Homo sapiens: one gene and its partner. The protein of the gene in region 1 binds, or shares a complex with, the protein of each later gene. Each region holds a gene or a part of one and is shown on either strand. Other genes may lie near its edges.

Evidence for each region.
Region 2: the proteins of ETF1 (region 1) and GSPT1 are in contact, whole or in part, in a crystal structure (PDB 3E1Y), measured with the Homo sapiens proteins. Residues at the interface, in NP_004721.1 of Homo sapiens: Phe291, Ile294, Ser295, Gln296, Asp297, Phe303, Gln397, Ser400, Gln401, Lys404, Gly405, Phe406; in NP_001123479.1 of Homo sapiens: Ser404, Ile405, Ile406, Cys407, Pro408, Gly409, Tyr410, Asn411, Arg445, Phe446, Lys448.

Annotation. Positions count from the first base shown.
Region 1 is NC_000005.10:138,540,235-138,547,665, reverse strand, and holds the start of ETF1 (eukaryotic peptide chain release factor subunit 1), read left to right. Parts: upstream 1-4,429; 5' UTR 4,430-4,569; intron 4,570-4,722; exon of another isoform or gene 4,723-4,729; 5' UTR 4,730-4,747; coding exon 4,748-4,833; exon of another isoform or gene 4,834-5,032; intron 5,033-5,954; exon of another isoform or gene 5,955-6,103; coding exon of another isoform or gene 6,104-6,147; intron 6,148-7,431. UniProt on the Homo sapiens protein: Component of the eRF1-eRF3-GTP ternary complex, a ternary complex that mediates translation termination in response to the termination codons. The eRF1-eRF3-GTP complex binds to a stop codon in the ribosomal A-site.
Region 2 is NC_000016.10:11,912,950-11,920,439, forward strand, and holds the start of GSPT1 (eukaryotic peptide chain release factor GTP-binding subunit ERF3A), read right to left. Parts: upstream 3,008-7,490; 5' UTR 2,772-3,007; coding exon 2,420-2,771; intron 2,264-2,419; exon of another isoform or gene 2,071-2,263; coding exon of another isoform or gene 2,040-2,070; exon of another isoform or gene 1,429-2,039; coding exon of another isoform or gene 1,395-1,428; intron 1-1,394. UniProt on the Homo sapiens protein: GTPase component of the eRF1-eRF3-GTP ternary complex, a ternary complex that mediates translation termination in response to the termination codons UAA, UAG and UGA.

The DNA of each region.
Region 1 (7,431 bases):
AGAAGAGTCAAAGGCAGCCCTTTAGCAAATCTTACCACAACCATCCCTTCCCTGCCTTCATCTTGGCTACTCTTTTTTTTTTTTTTCCTGAACTCCAGTGATCCTCCTGAGTAGCTAGGGACTACTACTAGGGACGACTTAGGTGTGCACCACCATGCCCAGCTAAATTTTTTTTTAATTTGTAGTATAGATGAGGTCTCACTAGGTTGCTCAGGCTGTACTCCAACTCCTGAGTTCAAGCAATCCTCCTGCTTCGGCCTCCCAAGGTCCTAGGATTACAGGCATCAGTCACTGTGTGTGGTCTATCTTCGTTACTCTTAAACTTATCTTCACATTAGTGACAAATAACCTCATTCTGTAGCTTTTTTTTTTTTTTTTTTTTGAGAAAGGGTCTTGCTCTGTTACCCAGGCTGGAGTGCAGTGATCACAGCTCACTGTAACCTCAAACTCCTGGGCTCCGGTGATCTTCCTGCCTCAGCCTCCTCAGTAGCTGGCACTAGGGGCACATGCTGCTGTGCCTGGCTGATTTTTTTTTCTTGTTTTTGTAGAGACCAGTTCTCTCTAAGCACAAAGACTTATTTGTGCTTTCAACATCAAAACTTATAACAGGCCTGTAATCCCAACACTTTGGGAGGCTGAGGCAGGTGGGTCACGTGAGGTCAGGAGTTCGAGATCAGCCTGGGCAACATGGTGAAACCCCTATCTCTACTAAACATACAAAAATTAGCCAGGCATCATGGCCTGCGCCTGTGGTCCCAGCTACTAGGGAGGCTGAGGCAGGTGGGTCACGTGGGGTCAGGAGTTCGAGATCAGCCTGGGCAACATGGTGAAACCCCCATCTCTACTAAAAATACAAAAATTAGCCAGGCATCATGGCCCACGCCTGTGGTCCCAGCTACTAGGGAGGCTGAGGTGGAAGGATCGCTTAAGTCCTGGGGTCAAGGTTGCAGTGAGTTATTATCGTACCACTGTACTCCAGCCTGGGCAACAGTGAGACCCTGCCTCAAAAAAAAAAAAGAAAATGAAACAAAAACTTACTTGCCTACTCCCACCTAATTAGGTAGGAACATCACCTATATCCCAATATTTAACTTTGTTACATAATGTTTGAGCTGAGGAGGAAGTTCTGAGATCATAAAGAACAATTCCTTTATTTTTCAGAGAATCTGTGTGCCTAGAGAGGTTATATATTTTGTTCTCACCATTTAGCAGTTTGAAAAATCTGTATCACTTTTATATCACAGAACATTCCTCAACAATGAATCGTCATGGTCCCATTTAAAAAGCCTTGATGCAGGCACTACCATCCGTGCTTCATACATCCCAAACCTCTTCACGTAGATAGTTATCCCAGCCTTTGCCTCTAATGCACTGATTTCTAATTCTAAATGCAGAGATGGTGAATTTGCAGCAACTAGGCAAGGAGCTTTTGGGGCTACCTGGGCCTGCAATTGTCTAAGAAATAAGTTTTAAGAATTCAGAGGCTGAAAACAGCAATCCTACTTGGGATGTCGTCATGCTTACTTCAGCCTGAATCACACAGAAGAAAGCCTTCAAGCATGGACCTGAAGCAATGCTGTAAACACAAACATCAAAAGGAAGAGGAGGCCAGGTGTGGTGGCTCACGCATGTAATCCCAGCACTTTGGGAAGCGGAGGCAGGTGGATCACCTGAGGTCAGGAATTCAAGATCAGCCTGGCCAACATGGTGAAACCCTGTCTCTGCTAAAAAAAAAATAAAAAATAAAAAATACAAAAACTGGCCCGGCATGGTGGTTCACGCCTGTAATCCCAGCACTTTGGGAGGCCGAGGCAGGCAGATCACGAGGTCAGGAGATCGAGACCATCCTGGCTAACACGGTGAAACCCCGACTCTAATAAAAATACAAAAAATTAGCTGGGCATGGTGGCACCCGCCTGTAGTCCCAGCTACTCAGGAGGCTGCCGCAGAAGAATCGCTTGAACCCGGGATGTGGAGGTTGCAGTGAGCCAAGATCGTGCCACTGCACTCCAACCTGGGCGACAAAGGGAGACTCCGTCTTTAAAAAAAAAAAAAAAAAGAACAGGAAGGGTAGAGTAGGGCAATCTAATATAGAAAGGAGGAACCAGGGCAAGAGGAATGAAGGAAAACCTTGGACACAGTTGATTCCTAGTCAGTAAGCAGTGTTTATGACTAAGAAGACCCCTCCGTTCACTACTAAACACAGTGAATGACACACACACAGCAGGAGTACAATATTATATAACAAATAAACATATGCCAAAAACTACAAAATGGAACCCAAAGAAGAGGTTCCAACCTGAGATTCATTTCCTGGGGGACAGAAGTATGACCGTGTCCCCACCCTATGAAAATACAGGTAATGGGGTCACTGTATAATACACTGGACTCCAAAAATGGAGTCGGGAAGCCATAAACTAGCTGTGGACTCTGAGCAGATCCCTTTCACTTTTCTTTGCCTCAGTTTCCCCATGTATGAAATGGAGGTCATACCCCCATCTTCAAAGTGTGGACACAGTTTATAACACATGCAAAAAGTATTCAAAAACCATACAAATGAAAGCGCATGACGGACATCCCTACTTACATGTCTCATAAGCAATCTCAAACTTAACAGGCCCAAGATGAAATTCTCAATCATCCCCCAACACCTACTCCTCACCTTTCCCACCTCAGTAAATGTCACCACTTCAGTACTCTGGGAACCATTCTTGGTTTTCCTCAACCAATCCATCATCCAGTCCTATTCACTTTTTTTTTTTCCTCGAGACAAGGTCTCGCTCTGTCACCCAGGCTGGAGTGTAGTGGTGTGATCTCAGCTCACTGCAGCCTCGAATTCCTCGGCTCAAGGGTTTCTCCCACCTCAGCCTCCCAAGCAGCTGGGACTACAGGCGCGGGCCACCACACCAGGCTAATATTTTGTAATTTTGTAGAGACGGAATCTTGCCATGTTGCCCAGGCTGCTCGCAAACTCCTGGGCTCAAGCGATCCTCCCCTTTGGCCTCCCAAAGTGCTGGGATTACAGCCGTGGGCCACTGCACCAGGCCCTTCATTCACTTCTATCTGCACTGTCACCACCCTAATGTAAGCGAAAATCATCTCTCACATGATAATGAAGCAGCCAAAATGGTCTCTGGGCTTCTCCTGTACTCTCTCCAGTCCACACCAGGGCTCTAAACCCTTTAAACTACCCACTGTTCTTGAAAGAAACCAAACTTCTGAATCTGGCTTAAAAGACCCTACATGACCTCTTCCCCTGCTGCTCCCTCAAACCACTCTCCCCGTCCCTGACCTTGTGCCAGCACACTGGCGTTTCTGTAGTTCTCAACTGTATTCTGTTTCCTCCTGACAAACTCTTAATCATCCTTTGGGTCTCATTTCAGAGCTGGGTCCCCGCCATACACTCTCAGAGCACCCTGAAGTACTTAAGCATTTGTGTAATTATTTTATTACAAAAAGTATAAAATCACAAACTTAAAAACCCAATCGACTATAAGCTCCATAAGGGTAAGTACTGTCATCTGTTTGGTTCACCTCTGTATCCCCAGGAAAACAGGGTCCAGCACACGGTCTGGGCTCAATATTTGAACCCAGACGAGGTGAGGGGGGACAAAGTAGCCACCTAAAAATCCTAACTCAAAAAGATAAAGTTCTAACCGTATGTGGATGCCCATTTTGTTTCAACTCTCTCCACCCCCATTCTCAACGGCTCAGGCCAAATCATACATGGGACCAGATACCTCAGGTCTCCAAGCTCAGGCAGCCCCCGCTGTCTTCCACCCCATAAAGTTCTAAGTCCAAAGTGAGCCCGTCCTAGCTCTGGGGCGAGAGAAAACAGGCCTCTTTCGCCCCTGCAGGTGAGGGTCCCGGACCGCCCGGAGGCAGGTTCCTCATCCAGACCTACTGGCCAGGACTCCTCCACACTATTCCGTGCAGCCATGACGCACGCAGACCGCAGCACTTCGTCAGCGAAGAAGCCGCTGAGCGCGAGGCGCTTCTTCGCGGCTTCTCAAGCACCGTTCAAACCGCGCGTCGGGCCCAAGTGCCTAGCTTCGAGTCGCAAAGCCTCAGATGTCCACCCTATTCAAGGAGAATGGACTGAAAAGACGACGACCCCGGTCCTCTCTCTTTAAGAACCACCCCCATTCGAGCCTGACGGGGGCTCTCAGTAAACTCGCGAGAGCCACCGGCTTCCGCCCGCTTCCTCCTCTCGCCTTGCCGGGCCGGAAGAAAGGTGGCACCTCCCACCCCCCAGCCTTACCTCACAAGGCGGCGCGGACCCAGCTGCAGCCAATCGGCGGGCTCATTGTAGGCTGCGGGGCAGAGAGCCAATGAGAAGTCGCGGCGGACGCCCAGCTTCTCCTCACTCGCACCGGCCCCCTCCCTTCCGCCTGCCGCCTTCCACTCCGCCCCTGGCGGAGGAAGTGATGTCACAGGCCCCATGTGAGCGGATTGCAACACATGCAGCTGCCTGGAGAGAGGGAGCCGGTGTCCTACGTCAGAGCCGCCGCCGCCGCGGAGCCGCCGCCGGGGAGGAGCAGCCGCTGCCGCCCAGGACTGGGCCCTTAGGTAAGGCACAGGGAGGGAAAGGCCGGTGACCTTTGTGGCGAGCTGCACCGGACGGGAGGAGAGGGCCTCTGGGGGATGGCGAGGAAGGGGGCCGCTCTGCCCCAGCGGCGGCGCTAACTCTGTGGTCTTGGTGTCTCCGGGCCCCGCCGGGCCGCTCTAGGGAGGAGGAGGCGAGAAGATGGCGGACGACCCCAGTGCTGCCGACAGGAACGTGGAGATCTGGAAGATCAAGAAGCTCATTAAGAGCTTGGAGGCGGCCCGCGGGTGAGCGCCGCGTCCGGCACCCTCCGTGCCCTCTTGGTTCCCGGACCCCTCAGGATGGACGCCCCCGCGCCGCATGGCCGGATGAGGAGAACCAGGCACTAGCCAACTCCCGCCTTCTGGATCTCTGGGTAGTAGCCCCTGACCCAGGGGCGAGGGTCGGCGCGGTTGGCCCGAGAAGGGGTCCTTTCCCCGCATGGGGGTAAGGGGCCCGCGCTCCCCGGTTTAGATCACTCGGCCCCCCTCGTGGTAGGCCACCGCTACTTTTGCACCTCTCCCGGGCCCTTAAGTCCAGGTCCTCCCTCTTCGGGCTCCAGGTGCTGCCACCCGACTCGGGTGCTATTGTGGCAAAGTGTTCGGCCTTCCTTTCCCAGGGCCCTTCCCTGATTTCCTCTTCTCCCTTCATTTCTCAGCCAGGCCTCATTAAAATGGCCTCTCCCTTCTGGGCTTCTGAGACCCGGGTGGGTGAAGTTTGGATGGGACGGGAAGCAGAGGTGGCCAGGGACAGCTTCTTTCTGATTCCTGATTTCTCTGGGTCTTCCACCTGTCCCAAGATGACTTCTCCCAAGTCCTCTAATTACCCCGGAGCTTCCTGGTTTTAGCTGTTCCAGGACCCACCTATAAACTGAAAATGCCAACGTACGCGCGATGTGAGGGGTGCTGGGTAGGTTTTGGTTAATGAATCTGCATGTGTATGTCCAGGAGAAATACGGGTTAGGGGGCCGTTTGATAGGAATCATAACTACAGAGTCCCTGCTGGCATTTCTCTGAAACTTGTGGGGATATCGCTGTAGAGAGGCGCCTGATGTGCTTGATGCTTGTTGAGTGAGATTCATAATTGAATTAAATGGGCTTTGAGTCTTGTACATTTTGATAAGAAACTGTAGGTGTGTCCATTGGGGGGAGAGTAGGCTAGATTAAAATTAGCTGTGTGTGTGTGTTTTCTTTTTTTTTTAACGTTGTTCGTTTGAGGAAGGTGTGCCAGGGGTATTCCTGTTTCTTTTATTACTTTATTTTGTTCCTTTCCCAGTCATAGAAACTTTTTACTTACAGGAAGTGCCCCCCCCCCCAAAAAAAAGTGTTTGGAACATTATTACATACTTGTATGTCTGAGCATTCTTAGAATAGTAGAATGGCCTGCCTCAGGCCATGTGAAAAGTTGATTTCAGCACAAGAATTTGACATTCTGGTTTCCAGCCCAGGATTGTCATTTATGGGTAGATTTGCAATTTTAGAATGACAGCCCCTCCAAGCTCTTCATTATTACTGTTATATGAAACAGGATGTGCTTAATTGTACTGAAGGCCCAATTCACAGGTTGGTTTTACTAGTGTTTTGTTCTTAATAAATTAGGGACAGTTCTGTTTGGAATGAGGCTTCTAAAAGTTTGGCCCCATTCAGTGACGGGCTTGTGCTCACTCCTTCGGTTTACTGGAGAAACGTTAGTTTAATATGAATCGAAGACAGCGGCTTGTTAGTCCTTAGGTTTTTCTTTGAATTCAATAGAATATCCAGACCTTCTTAATGATCTTACAGGAACTTGTGCCGTATGATAGAGTGACCAGTTATTCCCAAAATGTGAGAATACTGTACAGAAAGGGTAACATAGGTCACGACCCATTATGTTGCACTACCAAGAATTAGCCAGGTTCTTTTGTTTCAGTAGGATCTTGTTTTGTTACTTGAAGCCTTCAATCCAGTATTGCATTTTATAGATTGCTGTTGTTGCAGTATTGTATATAGGTGGATGTGACCTCTGGATTTGTTCTTACTGCTTTCAGTAGCAGGCAGGTTTACACATTTTAATTTGCATACGTTATATTCTCTGAAACAGTCCAAAAAATTAAATCATGACTATAATTTGCCTGTTTGAATGAAGTAACATTGAAGATGACATTGCTTAATAAGTAACAGCATTCCTTTCTACTGCTTAATGAAGGAAACTCATTCTTAAATTTGTTCTACCCATGTTACCTAGCCACTAGAAACTTTTAAGCGCCTCTTTAAGGCTTTTGAAGGCTTTACCTCTTTGTTTAGCAAAGTTCAGTAAAGTTTAAAGCATGCTAAAAATGAAGTTATAAGACACAACTTGTATTTCAAGTTGTTGAGTTTGGATATTTCAGACATGATTAAGCTGTCTAAAATAGCTGGAGGACCTTCCGCTACACATTGTGGTTAATAATCATGTCCTACTTTGCTTTTAATCAGGATTTGGTTGCATCTTGATCCCATGGAAATTTAAAATCTTGGCCATCTCTGAGTATTGGTAAGGGAGTCAGAAGATTCCCCAGTATATACCAGTTTTTGGAGGTGGGAATATTTTCATTGCCAACTTGTGTTAAAGTCAGACTCTAGATTTTCATAGATAGGGTACAGTGGAAAATGTTATTCCTACTTTACCTAGTGATAAAATATCTTTAGAAGAATTGTAATGGGCTTTAAAGACTTAAGTGGATGGCAAAATGAATCTGTATTTGCTGATGTTTTGGGGATACTCTGGTTTTCAGGAGGAAACTGAGGTTTTCAGGCATGGTTATTAGGACAAGGTAGTGAGACTTAGTGGTTGAGTAACAGTATTGTTTTGGAAATGAAAAAGCCCTT
Region 2 (7,490 bases), on another chromosome or scaffold:
CTCTCCAGGCTCCTTCAACAGCTTTCCCGGCATGCAGTTTAAAAACACACCCAGCACAAATTTCGGCTATGGCTTAACTAAAGAACAGAACATGCTAGCCCTATTGTCCACTTCCTCGCTATCAAAAAAACCTTGCAAACTTTTTGGTTCCCCCTTTGTAAGTTCCAATCCAGGTGTTATTTCCTATTTATCCCCCTGCTTTTTATAAGCACTGATTGTTCTCCGATGCTGGCTTTTTATGGACTTAATAGTCTGGAACATGCAATCCAACAGTCTCAATATAACCCTGGACCTCAACTTAGAAAATCAGTTCTTTTCCAAATAGACATCCTACATAGGATAATTTTTTAAAAACATGAACTGGCATTTTGGTACAAGCAATTGGTAAAGTCGGTAACACCAAAATAGTTTTTTGATTAAAAACAAGAAAGTTGACCATGCTGTACGGATTCTCTTACTGACAGCTACTTCCCTACAGGTTTTCGCATCTCCAATTTCTAGCACTGTCAAAGAGAAAAAGATTAGGTGTAACTACAAATTAGCAACTATCAGGAAGAGAGAAAGCCCGCATAAGAGGTAATACCTAGTCACCAACAGTGACCATTCTAGACCAAGGTTGGTTATCCCCGGATGACTCGCTGGACAGGCTGTAAATGGAGTCCTGAGTCTAGTCAGAGTGGTGCTGGTGGCTCCACAGAAAGGAGGAAGAGCCAAGAAAGAAAATGGCTGGATAAACGGAATCTGCAAAGTAAGGTAGGGAATGGGCACTTTTAGGAGCTGAGAAGTGAACTAGGTTAGGCAGTCAAAATGGCTTGATGTAAGTCAAGAATTACAAGCTAAGCTTCCTTATTCAAGAGGAAAACATTGTCTAGAGCCGTACCACCCTGAAAGTGCTCGATCTCCTCAAAAGAAAACATCAACCACCCACACAAATAAATGCCACTGTCAACAAAACCACCAAATCAACCGTGCTGACGTACATACGTCATCAGAGTGTTTCTCCAGACACTATCCCTTTACCACGAAAGAGCAAACGGTGACAAAAGTTTCTGTAGAAACCAAACTCCTGGAGCACTTTTATAATGTCCACTTATCTAAGAACCACCACAATACAGAACTTTAAAGAGAGAAATCAACAATATGTTCTCACTTAAAATGCGCTGGATGTCATGACCCACCCCACTAACGTCCTGGCTAAATGATGAAAGGACGTTCAGCCTTTTCCTTCCTTTTTCATTTTCTCTTTAAGGAAACACTGATAGTTCCTAAAATAAGCACCATTAGGAAGAGAATACTTAAGTTCACTCATTTGACATTCCCACAAAATCAGTACCTGAAAGCAAGCTACCTACCACAAAATAAGCACCATTATGAGAATACATAAGTTCACTCACCGGATATTCCTACAACGTCAGCACCTGCAAGCATGCTACCTACGACTTAAGCAACCCCTAAGTACGGGAAGATGTTTAAAAACCAAAGTTAACTCGAAATTTTATGGATTAGAAAATGTATGTCTACTAGCTACGGTCAGAAAGACACGTGAGAACTATTAAATTATAACAAATGCTCAAGTGTCTGAAGAAATAGACTGAACTACTGATGCACGAACACAGTGAGTTATTCCAAGCAATCTGAATAAGGTCAACGATTTTACAGCAATGAAAATTCTCTAAACGTGTCGCTGACAAAGGATAAAAGTGTAAGCTTCACTTTAAAAAGACACAAATCAATATAGTCTCCTATCACACATTAAGTGAGGAATCCTAACTTTGTGGCACTTTGTAAACTTTAGAAGCGTACACAATGCTAAGGGTAAAACAGATCTTGGTATTGATAGCCAAGTTTCTGCCCGATCACAAGGCTGCAATGCATCTTGGGATTCCTTCAGGACGGTTGGGGGCCACGGACAGTTTAAACCGTAATTACAGTTTCAATAGTAGAAAACGCAGCAGAAGACGCTCTCTCGGCTGGGCCTAAGGTGAAAGGAAAACTCGGCCATTCGTCCTCCCCAACTCCTGGGATCTCTAAACGCCCACCCAAATGACTCCTGGCTCCATCTGTCCTCATTCTGCGCCTCGTGGCAGGGATCCGCCGCGGCCCCCACTCCGTTCCATACGGTTCCCATCTCAAGTGGGTAACTGCGGACTCCAGAGCAGGGCAGGGGCGCGGAGGGGCGGCACTCGGGTCCGGGTCTTTGGGCGCGCTGCCCGCTGTCCGCTCCCCGCCCGGCCACCGCCGCGGGCCGCCCCGCGAAGGCCGGCTCCCGGGCTCGGGGCGCCCCACCCAGGCAGACGGCGCCACTGTCAGCGCCCCACGTGCCGACCGGGCCCCAGGGCCGCGCGCCCCCGGACCGCACCCCTACGCCATGTGGGCTCCGGCGCCCGGCCGGACTTCCTCCCGCGTCCCGGGCCTTTACCCGCACGGCCTCCCGCGCCGCTGCCGGCTCCGTGGTTATTGGCGGCGCCGCCAACTGGGGGTGGCGGCGCTGCCGGGCCCCGCAGGAAGGACGGCACGAACTCGGCGGCGTGGACGTTGGGCACGAAGGGCTTGGCGTTGACGTTGAGTTGCCGGCTGAAGGCCGCGCTGAGGTTCTCCCGCTGGGCCTCGGCCGCCGCCGCCAGGGAGCCGCCGCCGCCGCAAGGGCCCGGCCCGGGGGCTTCCATGTCCGCCTGGTCCCAGCAGTCAGGCGCCGAGTCGCTGCTGCTGCTGCCGCTGCTGCTCCCGCCGCCGCCGCCGCCGCCGCCGCCGCCGCCACTGCCCGGATCCATGATCGGGGGGGCCGTGTGTGTGGTGGACAGAGAGCGGGAAATGGAGGCAGGGGCGCCCGGCCGGAGAGGAGTGGGCAACGCTGACTGAGGGAAGGCGGCGGGGCAGAAGGGCCGGGAGCTAGCGACAAAGATCCCCGGCGTCGCCGCGGCAGCAGCTCCAGTCCCGACTCCACACTCGCGACGACGACAGAGGCGGCGGCGGCGGCAGCTCAACCCTCCTCCTCGTGTGTGTGAGCGGATCTCCTCCCACCCAACCACCTCCGACGGCCTCACAGCCAACCCCACCCCCGGCGCGGATTGACCCCTCGCCGCCACCCGTACCTTCGCCTCGGTAGTTCTCTGTTCTGGCCGCCCCCGTTTCCGGCTATTTAGCGCGGCGGGAGGTGGAACTACAAGTTCCGGCAGCGCCCGCGCTACCCCGCTGCGGTTTTCCCGGGGGCCGACGGGAGTCGAAGTTCAGGGACAGGGCGCAACCGGAAGCGGCTCCGGCTCCCGGCAGGCAACGCGAGGAGGCGGAGGTCTGGTGGCCGCTCGGCGGCCCCACCTGTCACCTGGTGGGGGGGCAGCGGCAGGCCCTGGTTGGTGCAGCTCTGTGCTGGGCCGAAGACCGAGAGTATTTTAGCCCATAGGAGGGGTCCACTCTGGCCTGCTGGACACAGGCTGGGGGAAAACGGACAGCATCTATAACATGGGGAAGAAAAATACACTCAGCTCCCGAAAATTCTTGTACTCTCTTTTCACCACCTTTCCTGCGTTCTCTGCCTCACAGTCTCCGTACCTTATTCTCTCTCCACCTTCTTTCTCCTCACCCCCAGCCAGATTTTGCCCTTCATTTCAAAGCCGGTGCAGATTGCAAAGCTGATTTCATTTTATGTAATCATTTCGTGGAAGAAACAATAAAACCGTGAGATATTCCGGCTTAAAACTGCAGTGTGGCTCATAAAGCGCTGGGGCCCAGGCTCTGCCCAGGCAGAAGGGATTGTTAACTGGAAAATTTCAATGACTCACCGTTTGTTTGACTAGTCATATAAAGCCTTCACCCAAATTTTTCCATCCTTTCCTCCTCCCCGCCAAAGGGTTTGCAAATTAAACAGAGGATTGCCGTATTCCATGGTGTATCCGGCTTACCTAACAGGGTTATTTTGGTGAGTCTAGCTTCCTTATGCACCATTACGTGAAGTGGTTTCCTTTTGAATGGTCTGATTTGCTCAAGAATTCCCATAGTACTTTTCATCGACTGCATCTTACACTTACAGATTAGGTAAACCTGGGAAAAGAACAAAAGCAAACGAGAAATACTTAAGAGTTCGCATTTAGGCCCTTCATGAAGTAGGAAAAAATGTTGCTCTGAGTACCTGTTAAGCTTTCCTGTAATTCACCCATGTGGAGCCCAAGACAGAGAAAAACATATTGTTAGTATTTTTCTGAAAGGAGTCTAGACAGGGTGCAACTAATCTGCCTAGAAATTACAGACTAAAGAAGCACATACATAGAATAGATGTTTCTGAACAACCTTAGGTTGTTAAAAAAAAAAAAAACCTAACAAAATCCAGATCTAGATCTGTATTTTAATTTTCTTTTTTCTTTTTTTTGAGACGGAGTCTTGCTCTGTAGCCCAGGCTGGAGTGCAGTGGCGCGATGTCGGCTCGCTGCAAGCCCGCCTCCCGGGTTCACAACATTCTCCTGCCTCAGTCTCCGGAGTAGCTGGGACTAGAGGCGCCCGCCATCACGCCCGGCTAATTTTTTTTGTATTGTTATTAGAGACGAGGTTTACACCGTGTTAGACAGGATGGTCTGGATCTCCTGACCTCGTGATCCGCTCGTCTCGGCCTCCCAAAGTGCTGGGATTACAGGCGTGAGCCACCGCGCCCGGCCGATCTGTATTTTAATTTTAAACATCTGTATTGTAAAGATAAAAGAGAACTCAGCCTAATGAGATAGGTCAAAAACGAAGCTGTCAAGTATTTTTCAAAAGAGTCCTAGGCTACAGTAATTTGAATTTAATATTAAACTACCAAGCTTTAGGGATTAAAAAAACACATACCGGCCAGGCGCAGTGGCTCACACCTGTAATCTCAGCAATTTGGGAGGCCGAGGCAGATGGATCACGTGAGGTCAGGAGTTCGAGACCAGCCTGGCCAACGTGGTGGAACCCCCGTCTCTACTAAAAATACAAGTTAGGCCGGGCGCGGTGGCTCACGCCTGTAATCCCAGCACTTTGGGAGGCCAAGGTGGGCGGATCACGAGATCAGGAGATTGAGACCATCCTGGCTAACACGGTGAAACCCTGTCTCTACTGAAAATACAAAAAATTAGCCGGGCGTGGTGTGCGGGCGTCTGTATTGCCAGCTACTCAGGAGGCTGAGGCAGGAGAATGGCGTGAAACCAGGAGGCGGAGCCTGCAGTGAGCCGAGATCGCGCCACTGCACTCCAGCTTGAGCGACAAAGCGAGACTCTGTCTCAAAAAACAAACAAAAAAAGCGATCCACCTGCCTCAGCTTCCCAAAGTGCTGGGCTTATCGGTGTGAGCCACCACACCCGGCAGAGTTTGCCTCTGCTTAATAGGAAGTTTTGGTTATAGCCTATTATTATACCTGAAGACCTCACTGAATCATACTTAACAATGTCCATTTTAAAGTTGGTATTAAGTGACTGTCAGATTTACAGAGAACTTAACAACTGTTATGAAAATTAGAACTTCATTTATGCGAGACCTGTATTGCTATTGAATAAAAGATTTTCATCTTATATTCACAAGAAAAAATACAATGTGTTCTAAATGAAATGCCTTCTCTTTCCAGATTTTCACTCCCCACCCACCCACCCCTAAGAAAATGTCAACACAATCAGCTGACTCAAATAATGAACTACACATCCTTCTCTAAGCATTTTGTCTTTGAATACTACTCTCCTCCATGTAGCACTCCTACAGCACTGAATGATCACTTTCTCATAGGTTAGTTCTTCACATCTAATTGAATTAGCAGAGTTTCCTTCTGCCTGGTACTTTTTCTAGGGACAAAGGCAGAAACTGCTCAGACTGCTGCTTAGAAAAGCAGTTGATGTCATTAATTTCCTTGTCTCTGAATAGGATAATTATGGATATTCAGGAAAAAATCCACTCCATTGGTTTTCCAAAGCTTTGACCTGCCAAACAGAGCTCCAGCGGAAAAGGGAAAAGTCTTTCTTGTTAGTTGTGCTAAGTTGTGTGTAAGTTGTGCGACTTGAGGGCAGGGTCTTACCTTAATCTTCTTTACATTTCCACTGCCTAGTGTAATGCCCGGTGTATAAAAGGTGCTTAATCAATTTAGCTGGGATGATACTGTCCTTTGATACTCATTTAAGACTGCTGACACATAGGGCTAATAATTTTATTTATTTATTTATTTTTTAAATAACTTGAGACTCTTGAGACAGAGTCTCGCTCTGTCGCCCAGGCTAGAGTGCAGTGGTATGATCTCAGCTCACTGCAACTTCCACCTCCCAGGTTCAAGCGATTCTCCCACCTCAGCCTCCTGAGTAGCTGGGATTACAGGTGTGCACCACCACGCCCAGCTAATTTTTGTATTTTTAACAGAGACGGGGTTTCACCATGTTGGCCAGGATGGTCTCAATTTCTTGACCTTGTGATCTGCCCTCCTTGGCCTCCCAAACTGTTGGGATTACAGGCGTGAGCCACCACGCCTGGCCTGTATTTTTTTTTAGTAGAGACAGGGTTTCACCTTGTTGGCCAGGCTGGTTTCAAACTCCTGATCTCAAGTGATCTGCCTGCCTTGGGCTCCTAAAGTGCTAGGATTACAGATGTGAGCCACCGCACTTAGCTATTTTAATTTAATTTAATTTTATTTTTTGAGATGGAGTCTTGCTCTGTTGCCCAGGCTGGAGTGCAGTGGAGCAATCTTCACGCACTGCAACCTCTACCTCCCAAGTTCAAGCAATTCTCCTGCCTCAGCCTCCTGAGTAGCTGGGATTATAGGTGCCCGCCACCCCCCCTCCCCAACCCCCTGGTAATTTTTCTATTTTTAGTAGAGACAGGGTTTCACCATATTGCCCAGGCTGATCTGGAACTACTGACCTCAAGTGATCCTCCTGCCTCAGCCTCCCAACGTGCTAGGATTACAGGCATGAGCCACCACACCCCACCCCAGGACTAATAATTTAGAAAACTTAGGAAAAATCAGAGTTTTTCCTACTCTCACACACAAGTCACCGCTCAACACAGAGTACAGTCCTCTCTGGGTAGAGGAAGGGGATTAGTTCCAGGAGCCCTTCAGATACAAAAATCCAACCATACTAAAATCCCACAATCTATACTGTGTGTATGAAAGGTCAGCCCTCCCTACACTTGAGTTCCTGCATCCTGAGAATCCCGTCTTTTTGATCCTCATTTGATTGAAAAAAAAAATCCATGTGTAAGTGGGACCCTCGCAGTTCAGGCTCACATTGTTTAAGGGCCAGTTGTACTCCACCAGTAAGTGAGGGAGTTTCTACCCACCACCAACCAATTCTTCAACAGACACCAACAGGATAAGCAATCATTTCACTCAATTCTGACATTAACCAGAGTTAGGACAGATCCCACAAGTTAAGGGATCAGTCCCACAAGACTGCCCCCACTTCCAATGCCAATAACAGGTTCCACATTGTGACCTGTGCTTCTGACCAACTGGCTATGAATTGGGGGTTCCCATGACCCCCTCCATGGGTTCAGGGAATTTG